Linked DNA regions of Homo sapiens: region 1 is linked to region 2. Evidence: fine-mapped expression QTL. A gene starts in region 2. The other region holds a variant in brackets. All regions are shown on one strand. Distances are between the middles of the regions.

Region 1 (2,912 bases), 110 kb before region 2:
GTCAAGAGTTCGAGACCAGCCTGGCCAACGTGATGAAACCCTGTCTCTGCTAAAATACAAAAATTAGCCAGGCGTGGTGGTGTGCACCTGTAATCCTAGCTACTCAGGAGCCTGAACTAGGAGAATTGTTTTAACCCGGCAGGTGGAGGTTGTACTGAGCTGAGATCACGTCACTGTACTCCAGCCTGGGAGAAGAGCGAGACTCCATCTCCAAAAAAATAAAAAATAAAAATAAATAAATAAATTACGGCCTATCTATACAATGGAATCCTCTATAGTTAAGACAGCAAGGCAGCTATATATGTTTTGATATAAACTATCTCCAAGATATATTTTAAGTGAAAAAAGCAAGGTACAGAATAGTGAATACAGTACGATAAAAGTAAGTTTGTATATGCATAGAATCTCTGGAAATACACTCAAAAAAATAGTAATAGTGATAGCCTTAGGGGAAAACTGGGCAAGTAGGGGAGAAGAGATGATAAAAAACTTATTTTTATTATCTATCCTTTTGAACATTTTGAATTTTGTTCATTTATTTACTAGCTATTCGAATATAAATAATTTCTTTACAAATATGTTAGCCAGCATGTAGTGGTTCACACTTGTAATCCCAACATTTTGGGAGGCCAAGGCAGAAGGATCACTTGAGTCCAGGAGTTCGAGACTAGCCTAGGCAACATGATGAGACACCCGTCTTTACAAAAAATTAAAAATTAGCCAGGCACGGTGGCTTGCGCTTGCAGTCCCAGCTACTCAGGAGGCTGAGGTGGGAGGATTGCTTGAGCTCAGGGGATTGCGGCTACAGTGAGCTGTGATCGTGCCACTGCACTCCAGCCTGGGTGACAGTGAGACCCTGTCTCAAAAAAAAAATTACGTTTTATTAATGTTTTACTATGTCTTGAATTAAACATCTCTCTATCCCAACTGCCACTGCCCCAGTTCTGGATCTCACTGCTCACCTGCACTGCTTGGGGAAGAAAAGAATTGGCGCTACTCTTTTTGCCTCCAGTCTTACCTATTTCTAATCAACTTCTATACTTCCTGCCTCAAGTGATTCCCAACTGTCTACAGAATAAGGTCCAAACTCCTGTGCATAATCTCCATACAAGAGAAAGGCAAGAAATTAATGTATGGGTTATTACTATCTGGATTAAGTTACCACTGAAAAATTTGTAACACTTATTCTGTGATCATAATTTTAAACACATTTCTTTTGCTTGGTTGTGCTTCAACCAAGCAAAAAGAAAGAATAAACTTCAGGCTGGGTGGGGTGGCTCAAGCCTGTAATCCCAGTACTTTGGGAGGCCGAGGCAGGTGGATCACTCGAGGTCAAGAGTTTGAGACCAGCCTGGCCAACATGGCGAAACCCTGTCTCTACCAAAAATACAAAAATTAGCCAGGCATGGTGGCATGCACCTGTAATCCCAGTTACTTGGGAGGCTGAGGCAGGAGAATCGTTTGAACCTGGGAGTAGAGGTTGCAGTGAGCCAAGATCATGCCACTGCACTCCAGCCTGGGTGACAGAGTGGGACTCCGTCAAAAAAAAAAAAAAAAA[G/AG]GAAAGAAAAGAGAAGAGAAAAGAAGAGAAGAGAAAAGAAAAGAAAAGAAACTTCAGTACTTATGTGCTATTCTCAATAGAAGCCATCTACTCTATGAAGAGAAAATGTGGCAGTTTTAAACACGTGGCCCCCAAATTCTCTGACATTCTTCTCACGGAAGTGGGATTTAGGACCTGTCCCCTTGAATCTGGGCATGCTTGTATCTGCTTCAACCAATACAGTACAGGGGAAGTAATGCTACGTAACTTTCAAGACAAGGTCAGAAAAGTCACGCAGTTTCTGTCTGGTCTTCTTTGGGACACGCTGGTAGAAGAGAGCCACCATGTAAAAAACCTGACTATCTTGAGACCATCATGCTGGAAAGACTACATGCAGACACTCTGACTGATGGCCAAAATCAACTGCCAGCCATGTGAATGAGCCATCTTGGACATGTAGCCCAACTGAGCTTTCAGATGACTGTAGCCCCATCTGACATCAGCCTCATGAGAAACCCGAAATGAGAATTATCCAGCTGAGCCATTCCCATAATCCTGACCCACAAAATCAGAAGCAAAGTAAACGATTACTTTAAGCCCCTAAATTCTGGGAATAATTTGCTATGCAACAACACTAACTGTAATAGGTATTTTTCTTTAACAGACAAGCTCTCCTCTTTATATTATTTAATAACAATATGGATTTTTTTTTTTTTTTTAGACAGGGTCTCACTCTGTTACCCAGGCCAAAGTGCAGGTATGTGATCATATAGCTCACTGTGGTCTTGAACTCCTGAGCTCAAGTGATTTTCCTGCTTCAACCTCCCCAGTAGCTGGGACTACAGGCATGTGCCACCAGGCCAGGCTAATTTTTTTATTTTTATTTTTTGTAGAGACAGAGTTTCACCGTGTTGTCCAGGCTGGGCTCAAGCAGTCCTCCGCCCTGGCCTCCCAAAGTGCTGGGATTACAGGCATGAGCCACCATGCCCGGCCTGCTGCTTTACTTCTCTTTTCTGCCTTAGAATTTCAGACAATTTTTAAAAAAATTCCAAACCACTAATTTCATAGGTCAAAAACTTAGGACCAGAGAAGTGAAATCACAGACCAAATCATTAACAGAATATAGATCAAATCACAGACCAAATTAGTAACAATACAGATCAAAATCCATGCTTCTTGATTCTCAATGTAGTGTTTCTTCTCTAACCTGAATTTCTTTGTATCTTCTTCTTCCTTTCTTTATTCTACTCATATTCCTTGTGGCAGAAGAGCAGCCAAAATGATATTAATCAATCACCCCTTTATGCCTTCCTCCAAAGAACCCAGATTTAAATTCACAGATTTAAACAGCATTTCTCAATTCTGCTTGTCTCTA
Region 2 (2,912 bases):
ATTCAGCTGGTCCCACACAGTAAAACCAATGCACACTTCCCGTCTCTTTGTTGCTGTTCTGATAAAGCAATTAAAAACCATTCACAACAATTTAAAAAAAACATTAATCCCTGTGCCCATACTGTGTCTACGAAATTGAAGCTGTAAGCCCTTTTTATATGATCCACACTTCTGTCTTTTCCAATACTTGCCCTGTTTTTCTGTGCTGATTCAGCTTTAAGAGAGAAAGAAAGACAAGCTTTGAGAGAGACAGACAACTATGGATAGACAATGTACGGGTAATACAGGGCTATCATCCACCTAGGCAGTTACTTCTTGGTATTCTGAGACCTCCTCAAAACTGTCTGAAAGAAGCTGACGCCTAAGACCGAAAACCCCACAAAGATCGTCTTTCCCAAAAGTAGCAGCATTTCTTCCTATCACTTTCAGATTATAATAAAGCAATCAATAAGACATTCATTCTCTTCATACACAGCCTAATAATCCTGGTGACCAACTATACCCAGCAGGGAGGACAAAGCTCTTAACACGAAAGAGTGAGGAGAATCTCTCCATTACCCTTTTACATATTCAGGGAAGAGAGAATATCGCAGTCGCTGGAAATGAAGGGCACAGCATCGTGTTGCTGTATGGCCACGGTTGGCCACAGAAAGGCAGAAAGTCATCAACTGTATGGAAACCAGACAACTCTGACGATTTCTATGCAAGGTGACTACACCTTACTCGTTCTCCAAGTATTAAAGATCTTTTCATCCTTATTGCTGTGTGAACTCCCGTGAGCGGTAAGGTTTTTCTATACTATCGAGGTCTCTTCCCCGATAGGCTGGAAAATCACACCCGGGAGCGTGTTGGGGCCGCGGGACGTACTATTAGGTGTCTCTCCTCCCGCTGCCTATTCCAAGTAGTAGGGGAGAGCGCTACCTCCATGTTATTCAGAGCGAAGTACGGCCGTGCCTCCTGGAGTCTCCGCTCCCAGCACGAGGGGCCGGCTGGGGGGCATCTCTGAGAGAGTGGGTTTAAGGGGACAAGGGGTATCTCCGGTCCTGCGATCAGAAAGGAGGGCGTGGAGGGTGGTGCCGCCGTGCCGAGAGGATCTGCAGTTCCCCTCCCCTCCCTTCCTCTCCTAGAGAGGCAGCCCGGCCCCAGTACCTTCTTGACTGTGCGCGGCGCCTCGGTGACGGTGCCGTCGGGGCTGACCAGGGCCTCGCCGCCGTCGCGGTGCCGCTGGTGCTGGTGATGTGGGTCGCTCCGCTTCATGGCCGACGCCTGAGGCACCTTCCCGGCGGCGGGGCTGAGAGCGGCGGCGGGCCCCGAGCCCGGGCCGGGGACCGGGGGCCGCTCCGCGGCGGGAGCTGGAGCCTCAGGGTCTCCACCGCCCGCCGGGGGGGCCATGGCGCCCACGGCGGCCGTGCTCAGTCCTAGTTGCGACTCCGCCTCGGAGGGGCTCAGGTCCTTCAGCTCCACCTCAGGCACCTTGGCGGCAGCCGCGGCTGACACAACCTGCACCGACATCACCGCCTCCGCTGCAACCACCGGCTCAGACTCCAGCTCCTGCTCTTGGTCGGCCCCGCCTCCCACCTCCCTTCCTCTTCCCTCCCCCATGTCCCCACTCCTCCCCTCCATCGCCTCCTCTCCCACCCCCTTTCTCCGCCCGCCAGTCCCGGCCCCTCCAGCCCCGCCCCGCCCCGTCCCGGTCTGGCCTCGCGCGAGGCGCCACGGAACCTGTAGTGCGTTTGCTCCCGGCCGCACGCGGCGAGAAGACCGTGGGACCTCAGGCCCCGACCTACACTGCGCGCCCCATGGGCGGGGCCCGCAGCGTCCCCTGGGAGTTGTAGTCCTTTCAGCCTTTCCTCCACTAAGTGAGATTCAGCCGAGGAGAGGGAGCGCTAGGGCCGGCAGCTAACAGAAAGGAGTGAGGATAGGTGACTCGACGGAGGGGATGAGGAAGAGAAAGTCTCCAGAGGAGTTGTGACTTCCGGGGAGGGAACGCCAAGAAGCCTTAGGGGAGGGGAAGTGGTAGAGGAATGGCTCGTTGTCCTGACAGCGTGAAGTTCCTCCGCGCGTGCCCGTCTGCGATCACGTGAGCGAGTATTTAAAGGAGAAGCGGCGGCTCCAGGCTGGAAGTGGCTTTATTTTTCTTTGTGATATTGAGAACTCAACACCCTTCCAAACTTCAGTGGCTTTGTTTTTAGAAGGGATAAAGTAGGACCTTGCTTGCTGTGGCGCTTTCTGTCACATTCTGGGTTTGGAAGCTAAGATCATTCCTCAAAGAAGTTAGGTATCACTAGATCAAAATTCAAGGCTGAGGAATTACACGTTGCCTTAAACGAGGCCAAATCTTTTCACCTATAATTCTAATAGGGCAATCATCTGAAATTCAGATACATATATCAGCATAGAGGGATATGAATAGTGAATATGAGTAGTTAATTTCCTAAGTGATGGGATTTAAGGTGATTTTTACTTTGTACTTTTCTGTATTATTTTTAAATTTTACATTTAGAGGATGTAAGCAAAAAGACATGCACCGCAGCGTCCTTTTTAATAACAAAAAACTGTCTAAAACTAATGTCCAACAAATAGAGCAATTGTTACAGCCTTTGAAAATCGTTTGCCAGCTGGGCATAGTGGTTGACGTCTGTAATCCCAGCACTTTGGGAGGCCAAGGCCGGCAGATCACTTGAGATCAGGACTTCAAGACCAGCCTGGCCAACATGGTGAAACCCCATCTCTACTAAAAATACAAAAATTAGCCAGGCGTGGTGGCGGGCACCTGAAATCCCAGCTACTTGGGAGGCTGAGGCAGGAGGATCGCTTGAACCTGGGAGGCAGAGGCTGCAGTGAGCCAAGATCATGCCACGGCACTCCAGCCTGGACAACGGAGTGAGATGCCGTCCCAGAAAAAAAGGAAG

Direction of the effects. Alleles are on the strand shown, and positions count from the first base shown. SD is a standard deviation of normalised expression in the study named.
In carriers of allele G in region 1, the expression in monocytes after interferon gamma of the gene that starts at base 1,559 in region 2 tends to be higher than with AG alone (moderate effect, 0.48 SD a copy in Fairfax 2014).

What was found.
Region 1: its variant is fine-mapped to the expression of AHCYL2 in monocytes after interferon gamma (Fairfax 2014, PIP 0.95).

What each region holds. Positions count from the first base shown.
Region 1 is chr7:129,334,718-129,337,629 of GRCh38, reverse strand. The region is part of intron 1 of AHCYL2 (adenosylhomocysteinase like 2); the gene reads right to left. Among named protein-coding and RNA genes, the nearest start is that of STRIP2, 98 kb to the left of the region's middle. The variant G/AG (reference allele first, on the strand shown) is at 1,559.
Region 2 is chr7:129,223,677-129,226,588 of GRCh38, reverse strand. It overlaps AHCYL2 (adenosylhomocysteinase like 2), which reads right to left and starts at 1,559. Exons shown (of 17, transcript NM_015328.4): 1 at 1,150-1,559. The coding sequence starts at 1,512. RefSeq lists silencers at 1,226-1,475, 1,596-1,665 and an enhancer at 1,946-2,055.